2 separate regions of the Homo sapiens genome follow, and region 2 is linked to region 1. Evidence: fine-mapped expression QTL. A gene starts in region 1. The other region holds a variant in brackets. All regions are shown on one strand. Distances are from middle to middle. Region 1 holds the start of GABPB1-AS1 (GABPB1 antisense RNA 1). Region 2 overlaps FAM227B (family with sequence similarity 227 member B).

What was found. PIP is the estimated chance that this variant, and not a neighbour inherited with it, causes the effect.
Region 2: its variant is fine-mapped to the expression of GABPB1-AS1 in cerebellum (GTEx, PIP 0.99).

Annotation. Positions count from the first base shown.
Region 1 is chr15:50,348,984-50,359,102 of GRCh38, forward strand. GABPB1-AS1 (GABPB1 antisense RNA 1) reads left to right here and starts at 5,191. Exons shown (of 1, transcript NR_024490.1): 1 at 5,191-9,329. GABPB1 (GA binding protein transcription factor subunit beta 1) reads right to left here and starts at 6,215. Exons shown (of 9, transcript NM_016654.5): 1 at 6,002-6,215. GABPB1-IT1 (GABPB1 intronic transcript) reads right to left here and starts at 5,896. Exons shown (of 1, transcript NR_026891.1): 1 at 1-5,896. RefSeq lists enhancers at 5,199-5,258, 5,997-6,620, 6,689-6,768 and silencers at 5,389-5,598, 5,609-5,858, 6,439-6,488.
Region 2 is chr15:49,446,145-49,454,144 of GRCh38, forward strand. The region is part of intron 11 of FAM227B (family with sequence similarity 227 member B); the gene reads right to left. All of the region lies in intron 2 of FGF7 (fibroblast growth factor 7), which reads left to right. Among named protein-coding and RNA genes, the nearest start is that of FGF7, 27 kb to the left of the region's middle. The variant T/TATAA (reference allele first, on the strand shown) is at 3,662.

The DNA.
Region 1 (10,119 bases):
AACTATAAAATACCATGAAAAGATGTTTTAATATTATAAAATAGGACTCAAAATTAATATTTTATAGGTTCCTTATCTTCAATTCCAAAAATCCAAAAAACTTCTGAAACCCAAAATAACTCATCTTGTGGTAAACCTTACCCAAACTGATATGAAGCTATTTACAGTCTTTATCCTATTTAGTGCGAACATTCATACATTTTGTTGCAGAAACAGTAACACTTTTGAAGGGGGATATTGCACTGGACTCTATTGGAAGGCTACACATTACTACCTTGCCCATATAAAAAAAAAATTCCTAATTCCATAACCTATTAGACCCTAAGAGTTTGAATGGTGGACTGTGATCCTATAATTGCTAACATTTATTGAGCTATTAACTGTTATGTTTCAGGTACTGTTCTGTTCACTTTATATGAAATAACATTTAATCTTTCCAATCATCATGAGCTAAGTATTATAATAATCCACATTTTACAAAGAAGGAAACTGAGCCACGGAGAGATTAAGTAAACTGCCTAAAATCACACAGCTAGAGTATGACTAACTGGGATGACACTGGGATGAATATTTAAAATATTACACATAAGAGTAACAACACACAACAAAATAATTGATTATGGTAGGGTGGTAGGAGTGATATGTTTCTCTACTCAATTGATATTACTTCTAGAATAAGGAATCAAACAAAAAATTACAAAACACTACATGCATTTACAAATTCTCATGTACAATTTCTACAAACTTGCTTAAAATGCAGAGTATAAAACCCAAATTTCTCAGCTTATGCTAACACATTTAATTTTTTATTGAAAAGTTACATCTTAATATCTTAATTACAACATGATAGATAATTTATATTCATTGTAGAAGTTAGAAAATTTGGATAAGCAAAAAGAAAACAATCACCTGTAAAACTACACTCAGAAATAACCATTTAACAATTTGGCACATATCCTTCCAGACATAATATATTTTTGGGTTTTTTTACCAAAATGGAATCATGTTTTTAAATTTATTTTTTCTCACTTACATATACCAAGACATCCTTTCATGTCTTTATATTATTCTATCATCATTTTCATGGCTGAGAAGGCAGTACCCCACTGTAGGGATGGACCCTAACAATCACTGTGAAACATTTAGGTTGTTTACAATTTTACCATATAATGATCAATAGTACTGGCTCTAGAGTCACACTGGTTGGATTCAAGTCCTGGCCCTAACACTTAACTAACTCAGGTACCTTGAGCAAGCAACCTCATTTCTCTATGCCTGTTTTTTCTTCTGAAAAGCAGAAATAGTACTACCCACTTCATATGATTACCGTGGGGCTTAAAGGCATTAATACACAGCTTTTATAATCAACAATACTGCATCTAGTATGCTCACAATTAAATATTCACACACATCTTTACTACATCAAAAAAAAAATTCTTTAAAGGGAATTTCCATGTCAGAAGGTATGCCAATTTTTAAAGCTGCTGAATCTACCAAATTACAGTGTGGTTTAAAGCCCTTCATTAAATAGCCTTCTCACTTAATACTCATTTCTCTTTATCCAGGAAGGCAAAAACTATTATCAAGTTAACCAGTTTGTTTCACTCAATTAGCTTTTTGTTCTTCCACCTGTAAACCTCGGCATATTTAATAAAACCTCAAAGTTTATAGGTAACTTGAAGACACCTAGCTCAAATTCTCCTTCAGTACGATTCCTCTACTCTAGAATCCCCAATTTGTCAGTGAACAGGAACAGCCTACCACCCAAAACAACTCATTCTATTTTCACAATTTTGAGGAAATTTATCTTGAAAGAGAATTGAAATCTGCTTCTTTTAAACTTCCACCCACTGACCCTAGTTCCTTCTGGTCAAGTCAAATCTGATCCTTCTGCATGACAGAACTCCAAATCCTTAAAAGTGGCTGTTACTTCTTAAAAGAAGCTCCTCTTCTTTAGGTCAAACATCCCATTTTTTCAACTTTTTCTCATTTCCATTTCTCTCATGATCAAGGTCCTCGTTTATGCTCTACAGATAAGTGATTTTGACACTTAGGTGTCTACCACCTTGGAAATGAGAAAAATTAAGGTCCGTTCCTACCCTACTTAAGTTTGGGCCTCTGTGTGGCTTTTTATTAGCTCTCCAGATGATTCTGATAAAGTCTGAGAATGAATACAAGGTCTCACTTATGATAGTATGCTACCCAAAAAGCCAACACAATACCCCAAATATAATATAACTAGTACACAGTAAAGTGGGGCTAACACCTTGCTCTGTCAATAAGCTGTTCTACCAACTTCAGAATTATTCACAGATGGGTGTGTTGGCTGACGCCTATAATCCCAACACTTGGGAGGCCAAGGTGGGAGGATCACTTGAGTCCAGAAGTTTGAGACCAGCCTGGGCAACACAGTGAGATCTCGTCTCTACAAAAAATTAAAAAATTAGCCAGACATGTTGGCAGGTACCTGTAGTCCCAACTACTCAGGAGGCTGAGGCAGAGGCAGGATCGCTCGAGCCTGAAAGGTGGAGCTTGCAGTGAAGTATAATCGCACCACTGCACTAAGCCTGGGTAACAGAGAAAGCAAGACCCTGTCAAAGAAAGAAGAGGTGCAAAGGGGAAAACAGGGAGGGAAGGAGAGAGAGGGAGAGGGACAGAGGGAGAAGGAGAGAGGAAAGAGGGAGGGAGGGAGGGAGGGAGGGAGGGAGACAGAAAGGTGCACTAGCCCACCAACTGAACTGACAGCTGATTGCACCAAAGCATCTTCTTTGTATAGAGCACTGTGATGTCAACACTGAGAAAAAACACAGGCCCTAATACTGATCTCATCTAGTGCTAGATTTACCTTCTAGAAAGCATGATGGAACAAACATCTTCAGAAAACTATAATACTAATTGTAGCTATCCCAATGTAGGCACATCAGAGCTATAGAAACATTGTGATTACTAGCTGGAAACCATACTAGTTGTTGGGGAGGAGAGGGGAGCAGAGGGATGACACTAAGGAAACTAAGTTGCTCTCAACTTCAAGATTTTGTGTGGGTTTGTTTTTCAACGTTTGCAAAGTCAGAAGAGATGGAGGCCATCAGTGAGTTCATCTGAACTCAGGCTACTTGCAAACAGAGACTGGGTAACTGCCTCGTGCACCCTCAAAAATAAATTCATGATGCAAAACTTCATGTAATTTCTGAATTTCTGAATTCCTCATGACGTGCACTTTACCTGTTACCTGTTAATATTTCTGGTACTGAGGGGCAAAAGAAAAAAGTAAAAAAAAATTCATGGTACAGGAGATGTGGTCCATTACAATGACACAATGTTATGGGAAAAAACACACTAAAACCAAGCATACTTTTTTTTTTTTTTTTGAGACAGAGTTTCGCTCCTGTTGCCCAAGCTGGAATGCAATGGCGCTATCTTGGCTTATTGCAACCTTTGCCTCTCTGGCTCAAGCGATTCTCCTGCCTCAGCCTCCCGAGTAGCTGGGATTACAAGCGCGCACCACCACGCCCAGCTAATTTTTTGTATTTTTAGTAGAAATGGGGTTTCACCGCGTTAGCCAGGCTGGTCTCAAACTCTTGACCTCAGGTGATCGGCCCGCCTCCACCTCCCCAAGTGCTGGGACTGCAGGCGTGAGCCACTGTGCCTGGCCAAACCAAGTGAACTTAACCAAGATCCAATCTATTTTCGTTTGAACAGCAAACATTAAAAGTACACCTGGTATTTTCTAACAATTACACGAAGAATGACCAGATGCTTCCTGTTGATGGAACAGTAGAGAACTATAGACTGACAGATTCAGACTACAGTTCACAGAAACAACTGGAAACAAACTTAGCTTCCTTTCAAAGCCATTAAAATACGGCCTTAAATTTTTATGCATTAATCAATTAAGTATAATTGTCTCCCAATAAGTATAATTGTCTCCCAACCTAGAAAACCCAGAATGATTCAGAGAGACAAAGAACTCTAAGGATATGTCTCTGCAAACTGTTCGTTTCACCAAAGGATTCACTGCAGAATTAATTTTCTGTAAAATCTGTACCTCCTATAATTTTCAACATGTTCTATCTTTAAAGATAACATTTACACAAGTGTTGATAGCATATGTGGAATTCACGTGTTACTTGTGTAAATCATTATAAATATGTAATAGAATTAAATGTTTTAATCACTTAAGAATATCTTCGAATGTTCCTGAGTCTCCGAGATCATAGGCAGATTATGCAGTCTTCATCTGTGATTTTGTTTAGTCACCTAAATTCCAACTTTTAAAAAAGTTAGAGCCCAGTAAAAAAAGTATGGGAATCAATCTTATTCAGTCTTGTTAAAATGTGTCTTGCATAACAGCTTGATTTGACTTGTATGGTGAAAGCACGGTAAGAATGACACATTTCTGTTTTTTGGTTTTTTTTTTAAAAAAGTATGAGTGTACAGTGGAGTGTTCCAGAGGTTACATGGTGTGCTAACCACAACAGTCTGACGTAGATCTGAGAATCTTCTATTAAACCAGGCATTAAAAAGATTTGCAAAAATGCAAGATGTCACTCTTATCATCTATGTTAACATGTAATGGATTTATTTTTTGTTTTTGGAAAAAAAAAACCAAGAGAAAAGAAAATAAAGTCATCTTTAGTTTCCTTAAATTCAAAGTCTGAGCCTGAAAATGGAAGTATCAAAGCTGATGGTTATACGTCAGTGAGAAAAAAATTTAAACCAAGCTGGGTGGGTCTTTACATGAGATAAACTATCTACAGGAAAGAATGACCACTAACTTCTGCATAATAAATGAGAGTGGATCTTTTAATTCTGAGATGGCAATGTACTTTACAAGGACCATTTACAGACTACATCAAACCTTTTTCTAGATAAAAAACGTACTTCAGTAACTTGCCTGAATTGAGAGAGCAAAACAGTCCGGAGAGAAAACTTAAAATGTTTCCACATTATCAAGCCCCCTTCAGAAGTACTGTGGTCTCGGCCCCTCCTTTGAACAGATGTCCGCTCGCCACAGTCCAATCAGGTTTAAAGCAAGAGTATTTGTACTGAAAACAAGCTTAAAGTGGGAAGACACACACAAAGCAGGCCTGTATCATTCCTTTGGTTTCAGTTTTCACGATGCACCCTTGAGGCTAGGCACGCTGATTCAACACACTTGGAGAGCTTCACCGAAACACACTAAACACACAGTGATGAACTGTGCCCTGGCAGAGATGACCTGGCAAAATTCTCAACTTCTTCCCTGAGGCAGTGCACCCGCAGTTCTCGGCGGCGAAGTCTTTGGGGCAGAAGTCCCGAGCCTTCAGAACGGCAGGCTTCTCCCCCTCAGGACTCCAGTCCCCGCGGCCAAGGCTGTCGCTGCGGGGGCCCCGCGCGGGACTGGCCAGGCTCTTCCATTAACCCTGTCTGGTCCGGCCGATCCCGCCGCGACCCGAGCGCCTCTCGGCCCCGCAGCACAGGGCGCCCAGGACCCGCCACCCTCGCCGCCCGTTCCCCTCTCCGGAGAGCCCGGCGGGGCCGTCAGGCTGCCGAGACAAAGGGTACCGCGGCGCCAGAGGCCGAGGCCCAGCCGCGCCTGCCTTCCTCTTTCTCCCGCCCACTGCCAACCTCCAGTCGCCCGCAGAACCTCCGCTGCCTCGGCGCGACCCCATCGCCACCCCGGGGCTGCCGCTCGGGACCGGCAAGCCGGGTAGCCGCGAGGCGGCCGCGGCATGCTAGGGCCGAGGAGGGGGCGGCGGCCGCCACCATGTCTGCCCGCCCCTCCCAGAAGCAGTGTGCCCAGCGGACAAAGCGCAGCGGCGGCGCGGGCGCCCAGGCCGACCCCGCCGACCCCCGCGGAATAAGCGGGGCCAGGAGCCCCGGAAACCCGGCGCCTTAATGCAATAAACAGGAAATCGCGGGGATGATCTGGGTTCCGGGGGAAGTGGAATTATTTTTTACCAGCGAAGAGATCAACTTCCACATCCGGTGGTAACAGGGCCCTACACAGACCCGCACTGACCTGGAAAAGCTTCGGGAGCGGCGACGGGAAGGCAGCAGGAGGTGGTGCGGGGACCCGAGGCGCCTCGTACCCGGCCGGGCTGACGCGGCCCCGCTACACACAAAGCGCTTCAGCTGCACAGGGCGCTATTTTCCGAAAATGCCGCGTCTGGTCGGCGCCCAAAATCCCCACCGAAAAGTCCCCCGTGCTGCGCGCGGAGGGACACATGGTGTGCGAGTGAGTCAAGCTCCCAGCATCCCTCCCGGACCCGGCCCTCTTCAGCTCATCGCCCGAGGATTTTCCGCCTCTGCCCTCGTCGGCAGATCCTGCTCCTACCCACTCCCTAGCTGTGTTCCCGCGGGGAGAGAGGGGAAAGAGGGTCTGATTTTTTAACGAAGGGAAAGAAAATATGCCATTTCTAGCGCTTCAGCCACACAAAGAAAGCGGCGGAATGATCCGCTCTCGGCGACCGCAAGTCCCGGCTCGCCCGGCGCCTGCGCGGCAGCGGGGGTGGGAGCTGCGGACGGCCATGTGCGCGGCGGAGAGGCCGGGTGGCCACCGAACCTTCCCGCCTGTTCTGCGGTGGGTAGGAGTTTGGAAACTAATGTTCCTGTGCTAACCTTCGTGTCTCTGTGACATGACTGTTGAAAGACGGAGAGTGCGGAATCTTTGGAGTTTTAAGCTTGCCAACTGTGCGGCCTAGCAGAATCCTGGGAGACGGAAGGACAGCCAAGAGGCTAGGATTTACCTTTAAGTGTCCCTAGATTCAACTAGGCAGACTGGGACGGGAGACGCTGTGAAGGTACCAGGGAAGGAACGAGTGAGGTTCCTTTTCCACTTTTTCATAAACTCAACAGTCAGGTTCATGACGAAGATATAGATATTTCTGTAGATTTTTTCCCCAACATTCTAATTATGCCTCATGTTTCGTAGATCCTAGTAACTGCTTGGATTACTGCCACCTCAGAGGTAGAGATCTGTTTTTCCGTGGCTGGAATGCCAAAAATTTTGTTGTATTTTATTAAGAAAGTAGCAAAAGTTTGGAGATTTGCAAAGTTAAAAAAAAAAAAAGCATTATGAACTTAATCTAGATGTGATTTGCTAAGGAACTTAATATATTGATATGTTTTTCACAGGGGCGTCTGGGCATGGCTTTCCCAACCTAGTAACTGCAACTTTTAGCATCCTACATGTAGGACTTGGGAATATGTGAGACAGCGCCAAGAATTTAATCCAGGAGAATTGACAAGCTTAAATGAAATCCATATTGCCCACTGATTTTGTGCAGCTTCAGATAAGTAATCTTTCTCCACTTAGCCTTTTGTAACAATTGATGTAATAAAGGTTTGTAGTCTTTGTGTAATTTATTAAAGCATTGTGCCTAAAATAGAAAAAAAGCATAGGAACCATAGGCTGTGTTTTCTTTTGATTTAATATTTTCATTTCTTCAGTTAATAGAAATTTGCCAAATTCTGATGTTTTTCTGTAGCATTATTTGAATGAGCATTGTTTATTTGAGTGAACATTCAGCTAATTGTTACAGAATCGTTGCCCCCATTAATCTTAGGCTGTAGAATGTAGACAAGTAAATAGGCATCATCAGTATGATGAGAGTGAAGCTACTTAATACTGTGGAATCAAATAAAGGAGGAACCCCTTACTAAACCAAGAGGGAGGAATAAAATGGAATGGGACTAGAGAAGCAATTAGCTTTAATAAGGGTATTATGGAAGACTTTCTAGATGAGAAGCAGTAAGTACAGATGTTTGGAGGCAAACACTAGAGAGATTGTTGGGTAAAGAAGACAATGCTGGAGGTCTACTTGTGAAGGCCTTGAATGCTATGTGCAGAAGTCAGCTTCTGAGAACCAGGAAGAAGATATTGAAAGATTTTAAGTAGAAGAATCATAGGATTGAATTCATTTTAGACAGATCACTGTTACACAAAAATTTGAGGCAAACAGAAGAGTTTGGAGTAAACAGTAGGCTGTGAGCCAGTAATGACTTGGACTGAGTTGGTAGCAGGTAGGTGTGAAGAAAATAAAGTGGTTATTGGGAGATTTGGTTAACTGAAAATGACTGAGGGAGATAGATGTCAGGTGACTCCCAAGTGAGTTGGTGGAGCAGCTAGGAGGATAGTAATGTCTTCACTGAGATTAGAAACAAAATAAGAGAATATATGTTAGGGAAGGAAGAAGTCTTTGTTTTGACCATGTAAAATTTGAAGTGCATGTGAGCCAACCAGTCATATATGTGTAGTGTGCAATTAGATATTCATTCAACACTGTTGGAAGAGCACCTACTCTGTGCCTGGTACTGTTCTACACACTGAAATAGGTAAAGCAGCAGCAAAACAAATGGTTCCTACTCCTGTTTTTTAGAGGGAAACAGCATATAAACAAGTTTTAAAAATAAGAGGAGAGAGAATATCCCATAAATTCGTGAAGAAGGCTGGGTGCAGTGGCTCATGCCAGTAATCCCAGCAGTTTGGGAGGCCGAGGTGGGTGGATCTCCTGAGTTCAGGAGTTAAAGAGCAGCCTGGCCAACATGGCAAAACCCCGTCTCTACTGAAAAAAATTAGCTGGGCATGGTGGCACGCTCCTGTAATTCCAGCTACTCCGGAGGCTGAGGCAGGAGAGTAGCTTGAACCCAGGACACGGAGGCTGCAGTGAGCCGAGATTGCGCCACTGCACTCCAGCCTGGGCGACTGAACGAGACTCCGCCTCAAAAAAAAAGAGTTTGTGAGGAAAATTAAAAGCTGATTGGATAAAGTGTTACTCTGGGGAAAAGAGAGCAAACTTTTGGTGGTTGGTTGATCAGAGATGGCCTCACTGAGAAGGTATTAGAAAGGACAAGAACAGTGTGAGACCAAAGGGAATAGCTGGGCAAAGGCCCTAAGGTGAAAAATTTGTTGTGTTTAGGGAATAGCAAGGTCAGTGTATCCGAAATCTAGTGACCAAAAGAAGGAATGATAGGAGGTGAAGTCTTCAGCCTCAATAAGAAGGTGAAGTGCACTGGAAGCCATTGAAGGATTTAAGAAATGGAGTATCTGGCCGGGCGCGGTGGCTCACGCCTGTAATCCCAGCACTTTGGGAGGCCGAGGTGGGAGGATCAAGAGGTCAGGAGATGGAGACCATCCTGGCTAACATGGTGAAACCCCGTCTCTATTCAAAATAAAAAATTTTTTTAAAAATTAGCCAGGCGTGGTGGCGGGCGCCTGTAGTCCCAGCTACTCGGGAGGCTGAGGCAGGATAATGGCGTGAACCCAGGAGGCAGGGCTTGCAGTGAGCCGAGATCGTGCCACTGCACTCCAGCCTGGGCGACAGAGCGAGACTCCGTCTCAAAAAAAAAAAAAAAAAAAAAAGAAATGGAGTATCATGGACTAGGATAGTAGCAGTAGAGATGAGGGAAGTGGATGGATCCAAAAAGCTGACCTATCTTGCTTACCAATTAAATGAGGAAAGGGAGGAATCAATAGTGATGCCTAGGTTTGGGGCATGTTGTCTAGGTGGAATTAATTTTAATTACACTTTTAACCCCTAGCATATCCAAATATTATTTCACATGTGATCAACATAAAAAATTACTAAATATTAAAAATATTTTACATTATCTTTCTCATAACTAAGCATTTGAAATCTGGTGTGTATTTTATACTTATAGCATATCTCAGTACTTGATTTCATAAAATTTCCAGCTGAAAAAATAGATTCACGTACCCAAGTCGTTCCAAGCATACTTAAAAGTTTTACGGTAATCGAATCGTGTATATTTTTAAATTTTATTTTAAATTAAAGTTAGGATTATGAATTCAGTTCCTAAATTAGCCTCATTTCACTTCTGCATTTCAAGTGGGACAAGTTATTACCATATTGGACAATGCAGTCTAGTGAAGTAGAGGATAGTGGAAAGTCAGACTTAAAAAGTTGTTTAGAACCAGCTCTGGAAGGCCTTGGATGTCAGATTAAAGGACTGAGATTTTACCCTTGAGTCAGGCAGAATAATGGATGGTTTTTGAACTAAGGAGTGACACAAGGTTGTGCTTATGACTAGAAGGAGGCCACTAGGTGGCCAGCTGGTGAGTCAGGACACCCTTCAGTTGCTTTGACTTCAGCCCTGTGGATTCAAAGTCTGATTTTT
Region 2 (8,000 bases), 900 kb before region 1:
ACAACAATTTTCATTGAGGAAGGCTTCACTCACTGATAAATATGGGAACACTTTTTTCTTTTTAAGTTAAGAGCCACTCATCTTAGAAAATCTTAACTGAATGTTACATGGAATCAAAGGGCAATTAGATCTAGTTCATTAAGATTTAAATTAGTGCAGTTCAATTCAGTACTCATAGAGCACCTTCGATGTACAGGTGACATTGTGTAATAATGGATACAAAGATAAACAATGTGACTTTTACCCTTAATGTACTGCCATAGGAAATAATTTGGTAAGTTACGATAGTTGCTAGTAAGTTTCATATGAACAAAGGAGTGATAAGGAGACTGAAAGAGAATATTTCTGGGTGCACCTAAGGAGGTAAAGAACTGGGAAAGGAAAATTTCCTGGTAAAGGTGCATTTGCTTGAAGGAAGGATTGGTTGGAGGATTTCATAGAGGGTAAAGAGCTTTTTTAAAGAAGAGAACAAAATGTGAAAAAAAGGTGCAGATGCATTAGGACAACAGTGAGGAATGGGGATCTCTGTCCTGTCTAGCTGGAGAATATGATGCAAAGAAAGTGGTAACACAGACCTAGTGAACAGATAAAATGCTTCAAAACATATTTTAACTTCATATTATAAAAAGAGAAGATAGCACAAAACAAGGATAAATGGGAGAGACAGAATTAAAGGAAGGATGTTAGGAAGTAAATGGAGAAAGATACAAGCAGGGGGAGAAGTGAGGAAGGAGTGCTCACTAAAGAGAAGGAAAAGCAATACACAGATATATCAAGAAATCAGGAGAGATAAAAGGCAGAGAAATACTCCAGAAGTTCTGAAGTTTCTAGAGATTTTGACAGGTATAACCAGAACACTCACTGGAATTTGGGGGTGCGGGAACTCATCCTGAATAAATGGACTGTGATTCTACTAACATTACCCTAAACACTGAATAAAATCATGTTAAAGGTCAAATATGCAAGCCTGTGGTTTCCTACACTGATATAAGGCTTTCAAAAAGTATTTCTTGTAATAATAATTTAGGTGGACAAAGTGTTATTATATAATCCACCAGGCCCATTGTAAATAATCTTGCACTATATTGTTATTTCTTTTGATACTTGTAAGAGCTTGAGAATATTAACTAAGAAACTCTGTAACATGGCTGGCAAAATACTCTCTTATCACTTTGAACTTTACTTAGAGGTAAATACATTTTGAGCTTCTGTGAGGTTAAGAAGAAGTAAGCAAAGATCACAGAGCTAGTTAGTGATAGAGTCAGATTTGGAACATATGTTTCTAGATACCCAGATGTGCATTACAAGAGTCAAATATGGCAGCTAGTATAGAAATCATGCTAGAATAAGAGATTCTCAATCTTAATGTGATTTAATTACTAAGTCTTGGTAGCATATGCGTTGATGTATTGTTTGTCAGGTTTAAAATACATGTTCACCATCAGTGGTGTATTTGCTTGGGGTGAATTTTCTGGTAAATTTATGCAAATTGATAGATTTCAAAGCTATCTCCTTCATTACTGAAGAAGATGATTTGGGTAAAACATGCAATCAATTCATGGATAATTGTTAATACTTGAGAAAATTTTTATGTGGAATGACTTTGTCCTCATTACTGCTTGCTCCAAACTAATTCAACTAACTGGTCACCAACATGATGGAGAAAACATGAAAACATAAAATCCAAGATTCACAGAACGAGAATGAATTGAATAAACAATAGGTTTGACTTTTGTTTTTCATGCCAATTAATATAAGGTAGAGGTAGAATCCTCAGGCTCGTGTCCTTTAAAGATCTAGCTTTTACTTCTGCAACCAGAGAAGAACTTCATCATTCAAAAGCTGCTCCAGATATCTTTTGATTTGAGAGTTTGAAATTATTTTAATGTCCGAGAGCATATACAGATTTATAATCAGTAAATAACAAACTTATCAGAACTTCAAAAGACAGAAATATGAAGCAACATATTATGCTCCTATTTACATAACATATTTGAGGGCCAGATGAATGAGGGTTATCTCAGGATATCTATCATAAATTACTAGAACTTTCTTTTCAACCTTCTCCCTAACATTTCACTATTGTTGTCCCCCCAACTCTTCTGTTTTTTCTACATCTCCTTCCAAATTTGTCTTCTTTCCTGTTACCTTTTCTCCCTCTTTTCTTTTCCTTATTCTTTTTTCTCTTCCCTTCTCTCCTTTCTTTCCATTTAACTCTTTTAATTCCTTTTCTCCATTTCTTTGCTTTAACTAACCACAATATAGAACTGATGTGTATATTAATTGTTCATTAAAGTGACTGGGTAAATTCCTTGTGCTTAAATTTAAAAAGCAATTTTAAAAGAGTATATTTATTGTTTTAAAAAACTCCTAACATAAGTTAATCAAAATTCACAGAAAAATGATTAAAAATAAATATACTAGATTACAATAGTTATATTTCTGGTTATTCTCTTCACTTTTTTTCAGTGATTTCCAAATATTCTTTGATGAGCATATACTATTTTTTGATGAACATCCACATATGTACATATATATATATATAATAAACTATGTTGCTTTTAATACATGTGGCTGTCAATTTCCTCTCAGTCACACTCTGATAAGATAAGGAAGGCTCCCCCAAATACCCAGTAGTCTAAGCAACCCAAGACAGATAACTGGCAAAACTTTTCTTGAAGCTCTCCAAGAATGAACCCTCTACAATTTTCTTTAGCAGTCGATTCCAATATTATATTACCCTAACAACTGGATACTTTCTCATATCTAGGGAAATTACTCCTGCTTCAGTTTAAGCCCCTTTCCTCATGCTCTTTTTTTTGCATATGAATAATATGGATATGCCACTAAAAAAAACACTTTCATAGGAGAAATAACATTCTTTTCTGTCTGCACTCATCCCCTTGATAAGTAATTTTTGGCTATTTCAAATGCTGGTCTGGCTTACAGATAGGAATTCAAACAGAGACTTGAATGATACCTTCAGTCTGTAGAGAACTGCTCACTCTAGCACTATCTCAGACTGCATTACTAAGTCTAAGTTTTTCTTGTTACCTAATTTCCACCTGCATAGGCTCATATTGGGCTCCTAGTATTTATTGCTAGTTATTTTTATATGGAATAAAGCAATCATGAAATCAATCTAAAATAAGACCACAAATCAGTAAATGTTTTTTACTTCTATACCTACAAATTGTCCTCTATAGGACAGTGATTTTAGTATATAAAGACAGTTATATTTCTATTTAATCTTATCTTCTCTAGGCTAAGCAATGTAAATTCACTCAACCATTACACTTAAACATGATTTCTCAGATTTTCACCACCCACCAGTCCTCTAAGAATACCACCTAAAATAGGATACCCAGAATGCAATGCTCCAAATTGCACAGGGTGGGGCCAGAATCAGCAAGATTACTGCCTCCTTGGCAACCTTATACTTCTATTAAGGCAGCCAAGGTTGCCTTCCCATTAATATAGTTTAAGGCAAATATGCCATACTGTCGGCTCATCTTAAGCTTGTCCAGGTCCCTTTCAGATGAATTGCTGCCAAGTTAGGTCTCTTTCGCTTCTATACTTGTGCAATTGCTTTTTGTATTTACAGTGCCTTGCTTTTCTCTTTCTTAAATTTTGTTAGCTTCATCCCAATATCATAGTCAAT[T/TATAA]ATAAAGATACATGTAAACGAGATCAGATATCCATAAAGATTACTTAACTTTAGAGATACTGTCATCCTGTGAATTCTAATGTTAAAATTTCTGAGTTGGAAAACAGGTTTTTAGAAATGTATGGAGGGAACACTCCACAGACATATGCAAAGAAAATGTCATGCTCAATCACAAACTAGACTGTGATGCGCCATTCATACAAATGTGGTTGCATGAGCCCGTAAGGAATGGATCAGCAATGCATGTGCCAAAGTTGTATAAATCCATAAGACTGAGAAGAAACAAATTAAAACGGAGTTGTGGAATAAACATGCCTTCTTACAGGGAAATTCACTATAAAGAAATTTGCAATAATGGAATTAGAATGGCAGAAGAGTGAATTTAGTTTCTATATCAAGACTCAAGTGACAGAAGAATAACAATTGAACAACTGATGAAGTGTGTTCATTTCCCTCCTCATCATCTTTTAGCAGTTTCCTGTCAATACAAGATAACTCTTTCTTCCAAATCTTGGAATTTTTATTGTGTTCCTGACTGTCTAGAGTTCATTTCTCTGGCCTATGTCACTGATTATGTTGCTAAAGATATTTTTTTTCCCTTATACTGACCCTTCAAAACCATCCTGAATGCCATTTTTTAAGCCCCTCCTCTTAGCCAGCTACACCATTAGAGAGCCATTTTATAAACTGACATTATTAATGGTTAATAGCTCAATGTGTAAACTTTCTCAGAAATATTTACTCTTTAGTTATGTGCCCCTGAAAATATGATGCTTAATGTAGAGCAACTAGTTTCCAGTGGTACAATTCAAGGGCTGCAGCCAGCAAGAGTCTGGATAAGAAAGACATTTCAGAGAACAAAAACTTCCTTATGCCTCTTGATTCCCACATCACAGGTTTTCAATTACATTCTTGATCTTTAAATCCAGTTTAACAAAACTAATAACACTGCGTTTGTTATGATAGTTCATTTAAAAATAAACCTCATCTGTTTTACTGTAAAATCTGTTACAGGCAATTGGATAGCTTAGGTTTTTTGTCTGAAGCTGCCCAGTTATTCTTTTCCACATGTGGGCTGAACCTATTTGGGAAAAAAACTAAACTAGAGATATAGTTAGTATAGCTACAGCTAATCAACTCCTTTGAATGCTCCTTCCCCCAAAAATATATTTCCCTGGTCAGTGCCATCTGTATGTGTGTGAGTGGGGAAATATATGTCTAAAAACTGGTTTTTTTTTAAATGACAGTTTAATTCAATCAAAATTTTAAGTCAGATATAATCCCATGACCTAGAAAAAGTATATCAAAAACCAATTTCCTTTAGGGTTTATATGTATTTGTTTCCAAAATATTAACTAAGAATATGGATACTTACATATAAAATAAATAATACGGTCATTTAAAATTTTAACCAATTAGAGCTTGCCAATTTCTACAGAAAGTGTGACAACTACATATATTGCATATCATAGAGGCTAAGGTTTTGTGAGAGAAGAAATTATAAAAACTAAAAAAGTTTTATTAGGCACAAAATTAGTATCATAATGATAAAGTATTTTTTCTTCTGTAAAGTGTTGAATAGTATATATTTTTAAGCAACATTCAAAATTACAGAGAAGTCTATGCATTGCTGACAGACATATATGTATATATGTTTGCTTAAATCTATATGTATATATAGATTATAACATCAACAATGAGATTAAATTCTGAAATCTCAACTTTACTAAAATTTTAGTATTTATATTTTTTTCTAAATCTTCTTAGAATTCCTCTTCAATTCACCTTTAAATGTACTGACTACACATTCATTGACCTTGATAATTTCAGTAAACATGAAGTGAAACACAGCACAAGCCAAACTGAACTCTAATTTTTATGTACGTCTCAAATCATGAAACATGTCTTCTAAATTTGAAGCCTTTATTGGGGATTAATACTCCTAAATTTTATTTAGAATCACTTGTTAAGTAAGTTTTAAAAGTAATACTTATATAGCAATCAAGAGCGGTCAAGTAAATCTTTTACCTAGGAGGAAAAAACTAAGACCCACTTTGTAATCTCTTAGGAATTATTTTACATGCGGTTCTTCCAGTAAGTCCAGGATCCAGGATGCTCTCAGAATTTGAGAGACTGTGTTTAATAACTAGTGAAAAAATGCTATTTGAGAAACTTTCTCTCAATATGATATCTTATATCACTACTTGACATAGATTCAAAATTTGATTCAATACCAACCAGATTTTTTTTTTTTGAGATAGAGTCTTGCTCTGTTGCCCAGGCTGGAGTGCAATGGCATGGTCTTGGCTCACTGCAGCCTCTGCCTTCTAGGTTCAAGCAATTCTCCTGCCTCAGCTTCCTGAGTATCTGGCACTACAGGTGCATGCTACCATGCCCAGCTAATTTTTGTATTTTTAGTACAAATATTACTGGACTGGGGTTTCACTGTGTTGGCCAGGATGGTCTCGAACTCCTGACCTCAAGTTATCTGCCTGCCTTGGCTTCCCACTGTTCTGGGATTACAGGTGTGAGCCACTGCACCCGGCCCCAACCAGAATTTTAAATGCCAGTTACCTTACTATTTCATATTTGTGAAAATTAAAATGAACCCTTGTTAACATCTATTTCTATACTTGCTATGGGAAAAAATGTTTGGTAAACAAATTAATAAGTAAAAAGCTGCCAGAGAAACTGGATGTTATTTTCTGGTTCTTCATAAAAAGATCTATGCAGATTTTTTAATGCAGTTACAAGTTATTATTGTTTATTTAACTTAAGCAACTAAAGAAAGCTCTTTTGGATGCAGTCTTTAGGAAATATAATGAAGATACCTTAGTTTGGGTTCAAATCTGAGATTTGAGAGAAATCCTATTATTTCTGGGCAAATGAGTCAGTCTCTCTGAATCTTGGTTTCTTTATTGGGTGACTGAGATAGTATCTAATCTATGTGCTTACAAGATTATTAAAATAATGAATACTGTATATGTGAATCACAGCACAGGGTGCAGGATAATATAAGCACTCAGCAAACGTTAGCTGTTATATGCCTTGCTTACTATGGTATAAACAAAAAGATGATAAAACTAAATTTCTTTGAATATTTTACATATTTCAAAGTCAGGAATTTATCACTTTAAATTTTTATCACTTTAAAAGGTTTTCCTTCCATAGGGCCCAAATTCACAAAATTACTCTAGTTAAAAATTGTACTGCTAATATAATAATCACTTTTCTCCTTTCTCTTACCACTGTGGAAATGTAATTTTTATAAATAATCTTAGGTAATCATCCTAAAATATTGCATTGAGGTCAACAAAAAGTGGTAGTAGCATGTTTGGTTCCCATTTTATATTCTCTGTAATAACAACTGTATTTTTCTTTTTTTAAAATTTGAATATGTTCTGTTTAATCTAATACGTCATTTCAACACATAATCAGTATAAAAATATATACATATTTTCATTATTATTATTTTTTATTTTAAGATGGGATTTCACCATGTTACCCAGGCTGGTCTCAAATGCCTGAGCTCAAGCCATTTGCTCACCTCCGCCTCCCAAAGTGTTGAGATTACAGGCATGCGCCACCGTGCCTGGCCCAGTATAAAAATATTAATGAGATATTTTACATTCTTTCTTTTTGTACAGGTCCTTCAAAATCCAATGCATGTTTTTCCTTTACAACACACCTTAATTCCAACTATTCACATTGCAAGGGTTCAGTAGCCACATGTGGCACATGGCTCTTATGCAGGACAGTTCAGTGTAGACCATGTAACCGTCAGGGACCATGTGTTACTCTGCTCATGACAACCATATTTTTCTGCTCATACATTCCGAGGTAATTGTATCTAGACTCATGACTTCAATTATGACCCACGTGCTGTTTAATCTGAAATCTGAAATTTCATGTCTCTTCCTTTTCTTGAGCTCTTGTTACATGTATCTAATGGTCACTAGATAGCTCTCCTGATGACCTCCAGGAAATTCAATTTCAGCACGTTCCCAATTGAATTCAGGATCTTCCCCCTCAATCCTGCTCTTACCTTATACATTTTACATAAGAGTTCTGATATTACTCAGTTGACCAAAGTGGAAGCCTTGCATTCCTCCATCTCTTCTAGCTCCCATTTTTAATCACCAAGTCCTACTATTCTATCACTTGAAATGTGATAGAACATTTTAATATTCTCTTAAACTGAATCCTCAAATCTCCTAGGAAGTTTATATGGCTGGGGAGGCAGTGTGGTGTAATAGAAAAGATGTGTCAGACAGGCGTAGGTTTGAAACTCTGCTTTACCTCTAATTAATGTACAACATAGATGGGGCATACTTTTATA